Homo sapiens: one gene and its partner. The protein of the gene in region 2 interacts with the protein of the main gene of each other region in a pairwise test. Each region holds a gene or a part of one and is shown on either strand. Other genes may lie near its edges.

Region 1 (7,029 bases), on a different chromosome or scaffold from region 2:
GGCAAAGGAGAAGCAAAGGCAAGTCTTACATGGTGGCAGGCAAAAGAGTGTATTCAGGGGAACTCCCCTTTATAAAACTATCAGATCTCATGAGAACTCACTATCACAAGACCAGCAGCATGAAGGTAACTGCCCCCATGATTCAATTACCTCCCACCTGGTCCCTCCCACAGCACGTGGGAATTATGGGAGCTACAATTCAAGATGAGATTTGGTTGGGGACACAGCCAAACCGTACCAGCTTCTAAATCCCATGCCAGCTTTTCTCTCTTTCAAAGACTTTCCTTTTTACCCATTATGAATTGTTTTCTAGTCTAGAGTACTCAATAGCTTTTTATTCTTTTCAAAGCAAATATCTAGCAATGTCTAGTTCAACAGATAAAATGCTCCCCAAATACAATGTTACCTCTAAAAACAGTTGAAATTACATGTACCGTTATATTGTTTTGTTTTTGAAAGTCCCGGAGATCCAGGGTTTTGTGTTCTTGAAGTCATTATAATCTAACATGAGGCCTTGCCCATAGAAAGCTGTAGGTATTTGTTTCATTGTTCAATGGTAACCCTGCCTCTGAAAGTTAGAAATGTGTATGACTCCAAGTTTCTAGCTTAAGTGCTTAGCTAGACTGTGACTCACAAATTGACACAAGTAGAGCAGGAAAAGAAGCAGGATTTTCTTTGGGAATGATGGAGGTAATAGGTTTAGTTTTATCATCCAGTTTCAGATTTCTCAGGCTAGACTCTGTAGACACTGTTTGGTGTTATGTTATAAAGAAACTGAGTGTCAGTGCCCACCGTCCTAGAGAAAGAGTACTTCCTTTCTGAGGGAAGCCAGTGTACTTGGCAGCCTGGTTTCTGCTGTGGGGTGTCTTCTTGATCTATAACTTACCTTTCACTTCAGAAAGCTTTCACTGTCCAGTGGGGCAGGTACACTTTACCTTGAAAAGTCTTATGCATGCTCAGTTTCACAGAACTTTTCTCATTATATTTTTATCTCAAATTGGATATCCCAGATAAACCCTGGAAAAATGCATTATGATCTGAAAGGAAGGAAATTACAAAGCCATCTCTAGGTAAAGTAAGGTGAGAGAAACCCAGTGATAGCCTCTCAAGGTTTGTAATACCCCATAGGTGAAGATTTATCCTAAAATGCAAGACTCTTAACTGTAATTTTAGCAGAGTAGGTGGTGGTTTGATTTGTCATTCTTTCTAGATGACAATAATTATGTTCATTTGGACAAAACAAGAATGTCGATGTCTAGATGCCAAATTAATTGTAGCCAAGATGAGTTTGGGATTAGTTGATGTTTGTAGCCTTTGTTGATCTCTAGTCATATCGTGAATACTTGAAGGAATAACTTCAGCACCCCACCTCCACTTGTTCCCATCTACTTTGAAGTGGAAGCCTACTCTTGTGGTTATGTTGCTTAACCACTCATTGGTTTCTCTTTCAGTCTCACTTTTTCTGTTTTAACGGCTGTTTTTTTTTTAACACAGTGTTTGTTCACATATGCATTCCTGTCATCTGCTCGTAGATTTTTTCCTTTATATGGTTTTTCAAAATTTGTTCCTTATTAATATTTACTGAAATAATTATTTTAACATGGAACTTTCAGTGGCATTTCAAAATACTCTGTGATGTCTTTAAGTAGCAGAAAAAATGTCAAACCTTTTCAACTAGAGCATAGCTCTCACATTGGATATTACAGTGGCAGGTGCTACCAAATGATGTTAGCTTTGTTTCTTTTTCAGACTCTTGGGGCTAGTCAAAAGAAAAATCCCTAAGCTGTCTGTACCACTGCACCCTTCCCTTTGGCACTAATCCAGGAAGAAGCTTTTGGAAAGCTGCCACTTTGGGGATCCAAATTAATAGATCTATTCATATTTTACTTATAGATATGAAGATGATCTTAAAGGGCCCTCTAAGTATTATTCTTCCTTCACCCTATAGAAAGTTAGGCCGGGCACGGTGGCTCACGCCTGTACAATCCCAGCACTTTGGGAGGCCGAGGCGGGCGGATCATGAGGTCAGGAGATCAAGACCATCCTGGCTAACACCGTGAAACCCCGTCTCTACTAAAAATACAAAAAAAAAATTAGCTAGGCATGGTGGTGGGCGCCTGTAGTCCCAGCTACTCGGGAGGCTGAGGCAGGAGAATGGTGTGAACCCGGGAGGTGGAGCTTGCAGTGAGCCGAGATCATGCCACTGCACTCCAGCCTGAGTGACAGAGCGAGACTCTGTCTCAAAACAAAAAAAGAATAGAAAGTTAATACATTGGCCGGGCGTGGTGGCTCACGCCTGTAATCCCAGCACTTTGGGAGGCTGAGGCAGGCGGATCACGAGGTCAGGAGATTGAGACCATCCTGGCTAACACGGTGAAACCCCATCTCTACTAAAAATACAAAAAATTAGCCGGGTGTGGTGGCGGGTGCCCGTAGTCCCAGCTACTCGGGAGGCTGAGGCAGAAGAATGGCGTGAACCCGGGAGGCAGAGGTTGTAGTGAGCCAAGATAGTGCCACTGCACTCCAGCCTGGGCGACAGAGTGAGACTCCATCTCAAAAAAAAAAAAAAAAAAAAAAGTTAATACATTAGCCCAGGTTCTGGGGTGGATCATCTCCATCATCTTGGGCCAATTACATAACCTCTCTAAGCCTCACTTTCCTCATTTGCAAAATGGGGATAATAATGGTTTCTCCATAGGACTGTCAGGAAGAGTATTCACTCAGCAACTGCCCATTGAGTTCCTACTACATACCAGGCACTGTTACTCATGAACAACACAGAAAGCAGCACATAAATAAGGGAGAATGAGGCTGGCTAGGTGGAACTACTCTAGCAAGGGTGGTTAAAGGTCTCTTTGAGAAGGTGAAACTCTTACTCCAGCTCTTAGTATGAAGCAAATTAAAAATTAAATGAATAAAAATTTAGAAAAAGAGAAGGTGATGTTGGAGTGAAGATCTTGAATGATGAAAAGGAGATTGTTAGGTAAAGATAAGGCAAAACAGTTTCAGGCAGAAGTTCAAAGTTCTGGTAAGATTGTTGTATAAAGATAAGGCAGAACAGAAAGTTCAGAGTCCTGGTACAGAAACAAAGTTGGTATGACAGAAAAGATCAGTGTGGAAAGGTGACGAGAGATATGGTGGGAGAGATGGGCTAGATACTGTAGGCTAAGGCAAGGAGTTTGGATTTTACTTGAGATCCAGTGAGACTCCATTTTAGGGAATTAAGCAGAGAGATAATATAATTTATGTTTTAGAACATGTGGAAAGAAAGAACAGAAGACGGCATACAAGGATAGATTGCTTGGGCTAGGGTTTTAACAATGGAGATGGGAGGAAACTATTTGATTTGGGATGTATTTTGAAGATAGACAAAATTAGGACTTGCTGATGGATTGGATGTGGCATGTATAAGAAAGAAGGATGAGGCTGGGCACAGTGGCTCACTCCTGTAATCCCAGCACTTTGTGAGGCTGAGGCAGGCCGATCGCTTGAGGCCAGGAGTTCCAAACCAGCCTGGCCAATATGGTGAAACCCCATCTCTACTAAAAATACCAAAATTAGCTGGGCATGGTGGCGCATGCCTGTAATCCCAGCTACTTGGGAGGCTGAGGCAGGAGACTCGCTTGAATCCGGGAGGCAGAGGTTGCAGCGAACCGAAATTGCACCACTGCATTCCAGCCTGGGGACAGAGTGAGATTCCGTCTCAAAAAACAAAAAAGATATACTGGATTTTAACCTGAGCATTTCCTGGGATAGGGCAGTTTAGGGGTAAAAATTAACAGTGTGGTTTTGGACATGTTAAAGTTCAGATGTTTATTGCACATCCAAGCAAGGATTTTAAGAAGGGGCAATTAGCTTTATGAGACTGGAGGTACAGGTTTTAGAGAGCTGTCAGCATGTAGGTGATATTTAAAGCCATGGAACTAAATGAAGTTAGCTAGGGAGAGCAGAGGTGTGTTAGAAAATCTAAAGACCAGGCATGAATGTCTGGTAAGTTCAAGGGACTGAATGTAAAAGTGCTTATTAGCCTATACTAAATGCCAAAGTGTGTGCTGTGATTATTTTGGGGGCTTTATTTCTTGGAGATATCTTCAGCTTCAAGTACATAAGGTTGGTAGAGTTACAAAAGACAAAGAGGGCCCAAACTTCAGCATTGTCATACCTCTTCTCCCCTCTTCAGGGAGCCACATGACTGCTTGTTTGGGATCTATATTTACTTCCCATCTTGTCCCATGTCTTGGGTGTTTCTTCATGAAATCACCTCGAAGGGTAGAACATGCTGTGATATTGGCTTTGGAACATTGTGTTAGGTGAGGTAGGCTCCTCTAGGGCTTTGTGCAGAGAAACCTTATTGGTTTGTGGGTTTACTAAGCTGCCTCTGGGCATTAGCTGGAATGAAAATTTCTTTTCAACAAATACTGATATATGCAGTAAGAAGAAAGAGGGTCATAATGTATTGTCACCACACTCACTGTGATGCCTTTGCCTAAAGGCAGATTGTAAGCATTAAGCCTGGGTGAAGATGCCCAAAACATTGCTTCTAAGAAGTTTTCACAAGACTTTCTGTAAAAGACAGGGAAGGCCCAGGTCTCAGAGTTCACCCAACTTTGGTGTCAATACCTCTCCACCGTTCTGTTATATCTGTGGCCTCTCCTCCCTAGATTTTCTTGTCTTAAAGATTAATTACTAATAGTTTTCAAATCCAAAGGCTGGAATTCAGTTTCCATCTCGTACAGTGACAGGACAGGAATTGTTCGAACTCTAAAGTGAACCATTTCCAGACCTTGTGATTCAAATATTATTTAAAATGTGACTACCTTGGCTTTGATGATAAAAGTCACAATTAACAAATGAATGAATGAATGAATGAATCAATCCCAATGTGTGCTTTGTTCTTATCCCTTAAAAGGCTCTAATGCTCCGTGTCATAGTCTGCAGCATACAAAAAAACATGGAAGTGCTGGGCTTGCACCTCAAACCAAGCAGGTGTGTGTAGAGTATGAAAGAGAGGAGACTGTGGTGAGTCCCTGGACGATACCTTCAGAAATCCATAAGATTCTTCATGAGAGTCACAATTCCCTTCTACAAGTAAGCATTGTTCTAGATTTTGTTTGTCTAGTGATTGCTCTATGTTCTTCAGGTTTTTTGTTTGTTTGTTTGTTTGTTTTTTAGTTTGTTTTTTGTGGGATGTGGAAATACTGAAAAGTTGTTAGGTCAGTTTGAAATCGTGATGCAAAGCATCTTCCCTTTTGGCTTAGTACTTCAGCATTTGTCTTTCAGACTTCTCTGTGACTGTATTTTTTAACTAAAAAATGACCAAAATGTAAGAACATAAAATCGTACTACAAGTATCAACATCCGTTCTGCCCTGTCTTCACATCTGGTGCCAGCATCTCGTTGTGTGAGATGATGTTCAGCTCTTGTCCATCTGGATGTGCTGGGCAATCACAGCCCTATTTCCTGGCACATTTCCTTCAGCCTTTTGATGGATGAGCAACTCTAGAATTTTTGGAAAGCTTAGTTCACGTTCCAGGTTTTTTTGTTTTTGTTTTTTTGTTTGTTTTTAGGGGCTAGGACCACAATTGTCTTTTCAATTTAATAGGACTTGTCTCCAACTGAAGAGGAAGAGCCAGAGCATCCTTTTGGGGTGGGCGGTGTGGACAGCGTGTCTGAGAGCACTGGCAGCATCCTCAGCAAGCTGGACTGGAATGCCATCGAAGACATGGTGGCCAGCGTGGAGGACCAGGGCCTGTCTGTCCACTGGGCCCTGGACCTGTAAGACCTGGATATCATTGGGTTTCCATGCACAGGCCAGCACCTCAGTAATGTGGTTCTGAAAGATTAACAGGTTTAAGGGACAGAAGCAATGAAAGAAGCAATGTGAATTTTCCATTTGCTTTCATATTATTACCTGGATTAGCCATTACCAGAGGAAAAATAAACATTTCTCAGTAACTTTGCCTTTATGGGGAAAGGGTTGACTATTGATGTATTATATGTTTTTGTATTTGATGCATCATTAGGCATAATTTTTAAAATGATAAGTACCTTTCAAGCCAAGTTTGCATAACCTACTTTCAATAAAAACCCTCTATCTTGCCTCCTCCTTTATTACCCTCTGAGTTTTGAGAAACAACCATATACAGATGAATCTAATAGGAAAAAAAAAAATCTTTTCATTGAGAAGAAAATCAGTCTCACCTGAGAACTCAATTATGAACCCTATTTTAAAACACCTATGCAGGGTTTAGCCTAGGAGTGAAAAGAAAAACCAACTACCTTTTACCAACCCTGAATCTCTAAATAAGCAAAGTTTCATGGAGGCCAGGAGATCTTCTGTCTTCTGCCCTGTAGCCTGAAGCCTTGGAGGAAGAAACAGGAATGGATGCTTTGGGCAGGAAAGTAAGGGAATATGACTCCGGCCTCTAGAAGGCTCATCTTAAATTTGTAAGAACCATGGTACAGAGACCTGATTAGTTTTTGGTATTGTGCTCCAATAATGTCATAGTTTTAAGAGATAATTTTTATGAGAATTGACTAAGAACCAGTATCCTTCAACTACTTCATCAATGTTTGGTATAATATAAAAGCACACTATCATCTGAAAAAGCTATTAAATACCCCTCTTTTTCCAAATATCTACCTGTGTGAAGCCAGGTTTTACAACATGTATTGCAGCAAGTTGAATGCAGAAGCAGGTATGGTAATTCAGCTGCCTTCTATCAAGCTAAACATTAAAGAGATTTGTAGAACTATAAAACAATGCTACTCTCCTTACCAAATTGTTTTAGAAAATAGCTTTATAGGCTAACATTATTGTTAATTGTCATTTAATTGTTTTGTCATTTAAAATATTTTAAATTGTTTTCTGTTAGTTTCTTTTTTGTATATTCTATGGGTATTTTATTGATACATGATAGTTGTACATTTTTATGGGGTGCATGTGATATTTTGATATGTGCATACAATGTGTAGCAATCAAATCAGGGTAATTGGGATATTCATCACCTCAAACATTTATCATTTATT
Region 2 (6,340 bases):
AACTCCTGACCTCAAGCATTCCTCCCACCTCAGCCTCCCAAAGTGGTGGGATTACAGATGTGAGCCACCGCACCCAACCAAGGGGCTGATTTTTACGTTGCTTTTTAAATCAAGGCCACTTTTTTTTTTTTTTTTTTTTTTTGAGATGGAGTCTCGCTCTGTCACCCAGGCTGAAGTGCAGTGGTGCAATCTCGGCTCACTGCAAGCTCTGCCTCCCGGGTTCATGCCATTCTCCTGCCTCAGCCTCCCAAGTAGCTGGAACTACAGGTGCCTGCCACCATGCCCAGCTAATTTTTTTTTTTGTATTTTTAGTGGGGACGGAGTTTCACCATGTTAGCCAGGATGGTCTCGATCTCCTGACCTCATGATCCGCCCGTCTCAGCCTCCCAAAGTGCTGGGATTACAGGCGCTGAGCCACTGTGCCCAGCCGACACTTTCTTAGATTATTAGAGACATGCTCCCAAGCAAATGTCAGTCAGAGACACACATTTCACACGGGGCAGAATAATTTCAAAGTTTGGCTATTTTAATTCAATTTCATTGTTCAAGGTAGTATGGGTATATTAAGTGGTTCATTTCCCTCCTGAAGAAAACAACTTCTGTCTGATGTGATTTTGTGAAATTCAAACATGACTCTTTGACTGTTTAAAAAAAAATTTTTTTTTCTTTACGTATCTTGGTAAGATTTTTTTTTTTTCTGGGACATATTTTTTGTAAACCTCCAAGTAGTTTGGAAACACTTGCCTATTTGCTCATTCCTCTGGGCACAGCCTTTCAGAGCATTTATCCCACCTGTACTGAAAAATCTGTTTTCCCAGGTGGTGGTGGGGCCACTGGATAGAAGGGATCACAGAGAAATGAGGAGTGAGCGAGCTTTGTAAACTACTTCTAATTCTCTTCATTAGTATGCTATGATCCACCCCAGCTTCTGCAAGGTCAGACATGCAAGACAAGTACTTGGCCAAAACAGCAGGATTCTAACTAGTGTAAAAATAGATTTTAAATAAAATAGAATCTCTATAGGAAAGAGAATTAGGTTATGCTTTACATTCCCACTCTTAAGATATCTGTATATATAAGTCCAAGAGAGACTCAAAGAGTTGGTCTGCCCTAAGTAAAAATTAAGAATGTCTGAGTACATTCATTTTGCAACATTACACGTAAAGTTTTTTGGGAAATGCTGCAGCACATCCCACAAAAACAGATGGTGATTAGTGATACAGTTGATGTGCTAACAAGTAACATGTAAGACATTTAGGTCAAAGGGGATGAGGCCTAATTACAGGCTAAAAACCTATTCTGAAATGTGATCATTTGAAAACCTGTGGCTAATTATAAAGCAAAAACTAAAACCTGTTGTTTAACAATACATCTTACTAACCTATCCCTCTACCTCTTCAAGAAACTAAATTCCAACACAGGTCTTATTTTAAGTTTGCTCAATTACTGCAGGTTATAAATTATTTGACATTTATGGTTCCAGAGAGAGTACACAGCCCCTCTGTTGGCCCACACAAGCGTTATATGACTGTTCTAAAGGGGGCTCTGTTGAAATTCTAATTTTAGGATTTAGAAACAGCTTTTGGTTATATCTTGAAAGCGTAATTGAAAATCTGCCCAAGCTCCCTCTAGCTGCAACCTGAACATGCAGCCCAATATTTTGTAAACATTTAGAAAATACTAAACCCAACAAAATACACAATTAGCTAGTCAGAGGCCTCACTCTACATTTTCACACGGATGAGAAATCTCCCCACTCAGTCTTGCTAGATGCTAGGATACCCACTCTGAGATTTGAGTTTGGGAACAGCCATTAAGCCTCCTCCTTAATTGCGGTTCATAATGATGTACGAAGTCACCAAAAATAAACAGTGGAGCTGCCACCATTTTTCCTACACTGAGTCTACCCAATGTGCCCCGGGTTGTTTGTTTTTCCTGGCTGGCCCCAGAGCAAGAAGAGATGACTGCTGGTAAAGAGCCAGGGCCTGGTTTACTACCAGGCCTCTTTTCAGATAACATTCAAGCAATTCTTCCACTCCCCAGAGGAAGGGGGAGATGATAATGATATGACACTATTGCTAGGGAGTTTTCATAACTCCTTAATAGCCAATGGAAACCTCTCTTTAAAGCAGCTGTTATGCCCTCAGAGAGGTTTGGTGCTTTAGTGCTAGATAACCTTACCTTTGAGGTTACAAGAAATAACTTAACATCTTAAACCTACCCCAGAACTGAATGTCAAATACGCCAACTCCATAAATACAATGGAAAAATGCACAGCAGAGTTGGGGCTTCTACCAAGCAGGAAGGCAAAATGGTCATTAGAATGTGAGGTTAGTGAACTCTTAAGACCTTTTCGAACGCAGCGCCTTTCTATCAGCTCTCCAGTCAGCACCCTTTACATTCACTACATCACACACTAGCAAATGAAAGAGCCAAACAACTGTGGCTTGATCCTCACTTGTACTTATTAGGGCCCACCCTCACATTTAGCTGAAGGTCCCAGCACACTCTCACAGTGTCAGGGAGAACAGTCTCAGGGATGTCTGTTGCTCTGAAGGTCACTTGCCCCTCTTGCTGCGGCCCTTCCTGGAGGGCAACTTCCCACTGCCCCCCGAAGAGGCAGGGCTCGAGGCCGAGGCCATGGCGATGTTGATCTGTCCCTCCTGGATTTCCTGCCGGGTCTCGGCAGGCAGATGGTTGATCTTCTGCTGTGTCTCCAGGTAGAACATGACGTCACGCAGCTGCTCCTGGATCTCGGTGATCTGCAGATCTTTTTGGTCACAGGTCTCCTTCAGCACCCTCTCCTCCTCTTTTAGCTTGTTCTGCAGGAGGACTTGGTTGGCTCGCAAACACTTGTTCATTTCCTGCTCCTCTTTGAGCTCGTTGGTGAGTTTGGCCACTTTTGTGTTTAGCTGAGTGCACCTTTTGAAAAACAAAGGAAGACAAAAGCACATTTTTCATTTGCTGACACAGTCCCCTTTCTGCTCTGGGATTGAACAGAGAAACCATGACCTCAGAATCCCTTTAGGACAGACCCCTTTCTCCCATCGTGAGGGAGAATGGTTTTCTGCCATCGCAATCAGCTATGCAAAGCAAGAATTTTGCTCTACTTAACACAAGTGTATTTTTTTTTGAGACGGAGTTTCGCTCTTGTTGCCCAGGCTGGAATGCAATGGCACGATCTCAGCTCACTGCAACCTCCACCTCCTGGGTTCAAGCGATTCTCCTGCCTCAGCCTCCCAAGTAGCTGGGATTACAGGCACCTGCCACTATGCCTGGCTAATTTTTGTATTTTGAGTAGATATTGGGGTTCGGCATGTTGGCCAGGCTGGTCTTGAACTCCCAACCTCAGGTGATCCACCTGTCTCGGCCTTCCAAAGTACTGGGATTACAGGCATGAGGCACTGCGCCAGTCCACAAGTGTATTATTTATTTATTTATTTTTTGAGATGGAGTCTCACTCTGTTGCCCAGGCTGGAATGCAGTGGCGTGATCTTGGCTCACTGCAACCTCTGCCGCTTGGGTTCAAGCGATTCTCCTGCCTCAGCCTCCTAAGTAGCTGGGATTACAGGTGCCTGCCACTGTGCCCAGCTAATTTTTGCATTTTTAGTAGCGACGGGGTTTCACCATCTTGGCCAGGCTGGTCTGGAACTCCTGACCTTGTGATCCACCCACCTTGGCCTCCCAAAGTGCTGGGATTACAGGTGTGAGCCACCGCGTCCAGCCCACAAATGTACTTTTAAGACACTTTTTTTTAAGCATCAGAAAGTTTTCAGTAGCAGAAACTATTCTGTGACTGACGGTAAAAATTCTACTGCTTCTTTGTTTTGCAGTCAGTGGTTAAATAGGTGCCTTCGAGATGATAGCTGTGATAAGGAAGTTATGAGGAAAAGTGGCATTCTTGGAGAGTCAAGTACTCTGACTTCATTGCATTTGCTGAAGGGGAAAAAAAGGGCACTTATTCTAACCAAAGGGCTTTAGACTTGGGAGTGCCCTATTCTTGATGTCCAGTCTTACTCATAAGTAAAGAATTGCAAATGAAACCACCATTTGAGGCCAGGTGCATTGGCTCATGCTTGGAATCCCAGCACTCTGGGAGGCTGAGGCGAGAGGATCGCTTCAGTAAATGAAACAGGAAATGAGTTCGAGACCAGCCTGGGCAACAAAGTAAGACCCTGTCTCTACACAAAATCAAAAAACTTAGCCAGGTGCAGTGGCGTGCACCTGTGGTCCCAGATTTACAGGAGGCTGAAGCTGGAGGATTGCTTGATCCCAGCAGGTCAAGGCTGCAGTGAGCTGTGTTCATGCTACTGCACTCCAGCCTGAGTGACAGAACGAGATCTTGTCTCAAACAAACAACCCATACCATCTGAGACCCAGCAGAGTGGCTCATGTCTGTAATCCCAGCACTATGGGAGGCAAAAGTGAGAGGGTCACTTTGAAATCAGCCCGGTCAACATAGCGAGACACCGTCTATACAAAAGAAAAATTAAAAAACTAGCTGGGTGTGGTGATGTGCACTTGTAGACCCAGCTACTTGGGAGGCTGAGGCAGAGGACTGCTTGAGCCCAGGAATTTGAGCCTGCAGTGGGCTGTGATTGCATCACTGCACTCCAGCCTGTCTGACAGAGTAAGACCCTGTCTCAAAAAAACAACAACAAAAACCAAAAACACTCACACACAAAAACCACGAACAAAAAAACCCCACTATTTGAGATACTATTTTTATGCATCAGAACACCCAAGAGCTGAGACATGAGAAAAGAGGCACTTACACACTAGCACTGGAGCATGAACTGGTATAAACTCTTTCGAAGACAACTTGGCAATATCTATAAAAACAAAAAATTTGGGCCAGGCACGGTGGCTCACGCCTGTTATCCCAGCACTTTGGGAGGCCGAGGAGGGTGGATCACGAGATCAGGAGTTCAACATCAGCCTGGCCAACATGGTGAAGCTCCGTTTCTACTAAAAATACAAAAATTAGCCGGGTGTGGTAGCGTGTGCCTGTAATCCCAGCTACTCGGGAGGGTGAGGCAGGAGAACTGCTTGAACCCTAGAGGCGGAGGCTGCAGTGAGTCGAGATCGTGCCACTGCACTCCAGCCTGTGTGACAGAGCAAGATTCCGTCTCAAAAATAAATAAATAAAAACAAAAAATTTGCATGCCCTTTGACACAGCTATTTTACTTCTAGGAATTTATACCATAGAATAGATATACTCAGGATTAGGTAAAAAGAGACATGGAGGAAGATGCTCATTACAGTATTGCTTATAGTAGTGTGAGATTTGACACAACTTGACACAATCAATAGGAACCTGGTCAAAATCATTATGCAGGCCAGGTGCAGGGCTCATGCCTATAATCCTAGCATTTTTGGAGGCCAAGACAGGATCAAGGAGGAGGATCACTTGAGGCTAAGAGTTCAAAACCAGCCTGGGCAATATGGCAAGACCCCGTCTCTACAAAAAAATTTTCAATTGGGCAGACATGGTAGCACACACCTGTAGTCCTAGCTACTCAGGAAGCTCAGACTAGGAGGACCACTTGAGCCCAGTAGCTGGAGGTTGCAGTGAACTATGATTACGCCACTGTACTCTGGCCTAGGCAACACAGCAAGACCTTATTTCAACAACAACCACCACAACAGAAATCATTATAGTACATCCATACAATTAAACAGCATGCAGATGTTACAAAGATCAGGATAGATTTAGATGTGCTAGTATGAAAAAAAATCCAAAAACATATTTTATCAAAAAGAATACCTAGATTCTATTTTTGCAGAGAAAAGATTATGCATGTGAGATATTTATGTGGGCAGAGCTAAACATCTAGAAGAAGAAATATTCACTGGTACTGGTTAATAATGGTTAACACTAGATAGCAGGATCTAGAGGGTGAAAAAGAACTTCCAGTTTTTGCAGGGTGTGGTGGCCCATGCCTGTAATGGTAAAACAGTCTCTGCAAAAAATTAGCCAGAGGCCAAGCACGGTGGCTCACGCCTGTAAAACCAGCACTTTAGCAGGCGGATCACCTGAGGTCGGGAGTTTGAGACCAGACTGACCAACATGGAGAAACCCTGTTTCTACTAAAAATACAAAATTAGCCACGCATGGTGGTGCATGCCTGTAATTCCAGCTACTTGGGAGGCTGAGGCAGGAGAATTGCTTGAACCCCGGAGGCAGATGTTGCAGTGAGCCGAGATCACACCATTGCAGCCTGGGCAACAAGAGCGAAACTCCGTCTCAAAAAAAAAAAGAAAAAAAGAAAAAAAAATTAGCCAGGGGTGGTGGTGCACAGCTGTAGTCCAGTTACTTGGGAGGCTGAGGTGGGAGGA

The links. The genes of interacting proteins can lie anywhere in the genome.
Region 1: the proteins of BRAP (region 2) and CPLANE1 interact in a two-hybrid assay, tested with the Homo sapiens proteins (one study listed by IntAct).

What each region holds. Positions count from the first base shown.
Region 1 is NC_000005.10:37,106,352-37,113,380, reverse strand, and holds part of CPLANE1 (ciliogenesis and planar polarity effector 1), read left to right. Parts: intron 1-4,909; coding exon 4,910-5,088; intron 5,089-5,602; coding exon 5,603-5,779; 3' UTR 5,780-7,029. UniProt on the Homo sapiens protein: Involved in ciliogenesis. Involved in the establishment of cell polarity required for directional cell migration. Proposed to act in association with the CPLANE (ciliogenesis and planar polarity effectors) complex.
Region 2 is NC_000012.12:111,641,641-111,647,980, forward strand, and holds the end of BRAP (BRCA1-associated protein), read right to left. Parts: intron 2,923-6,340; coding exon 2,559-2,922; 3' UTR 506-2,558; downstream 1-505. UniProt on the Homo sapiens protein: Negatively regulates MAP kinase activation by limiting the formation of Raf/MEK complexes probably by inactivation of the KSR1 scaffold protein.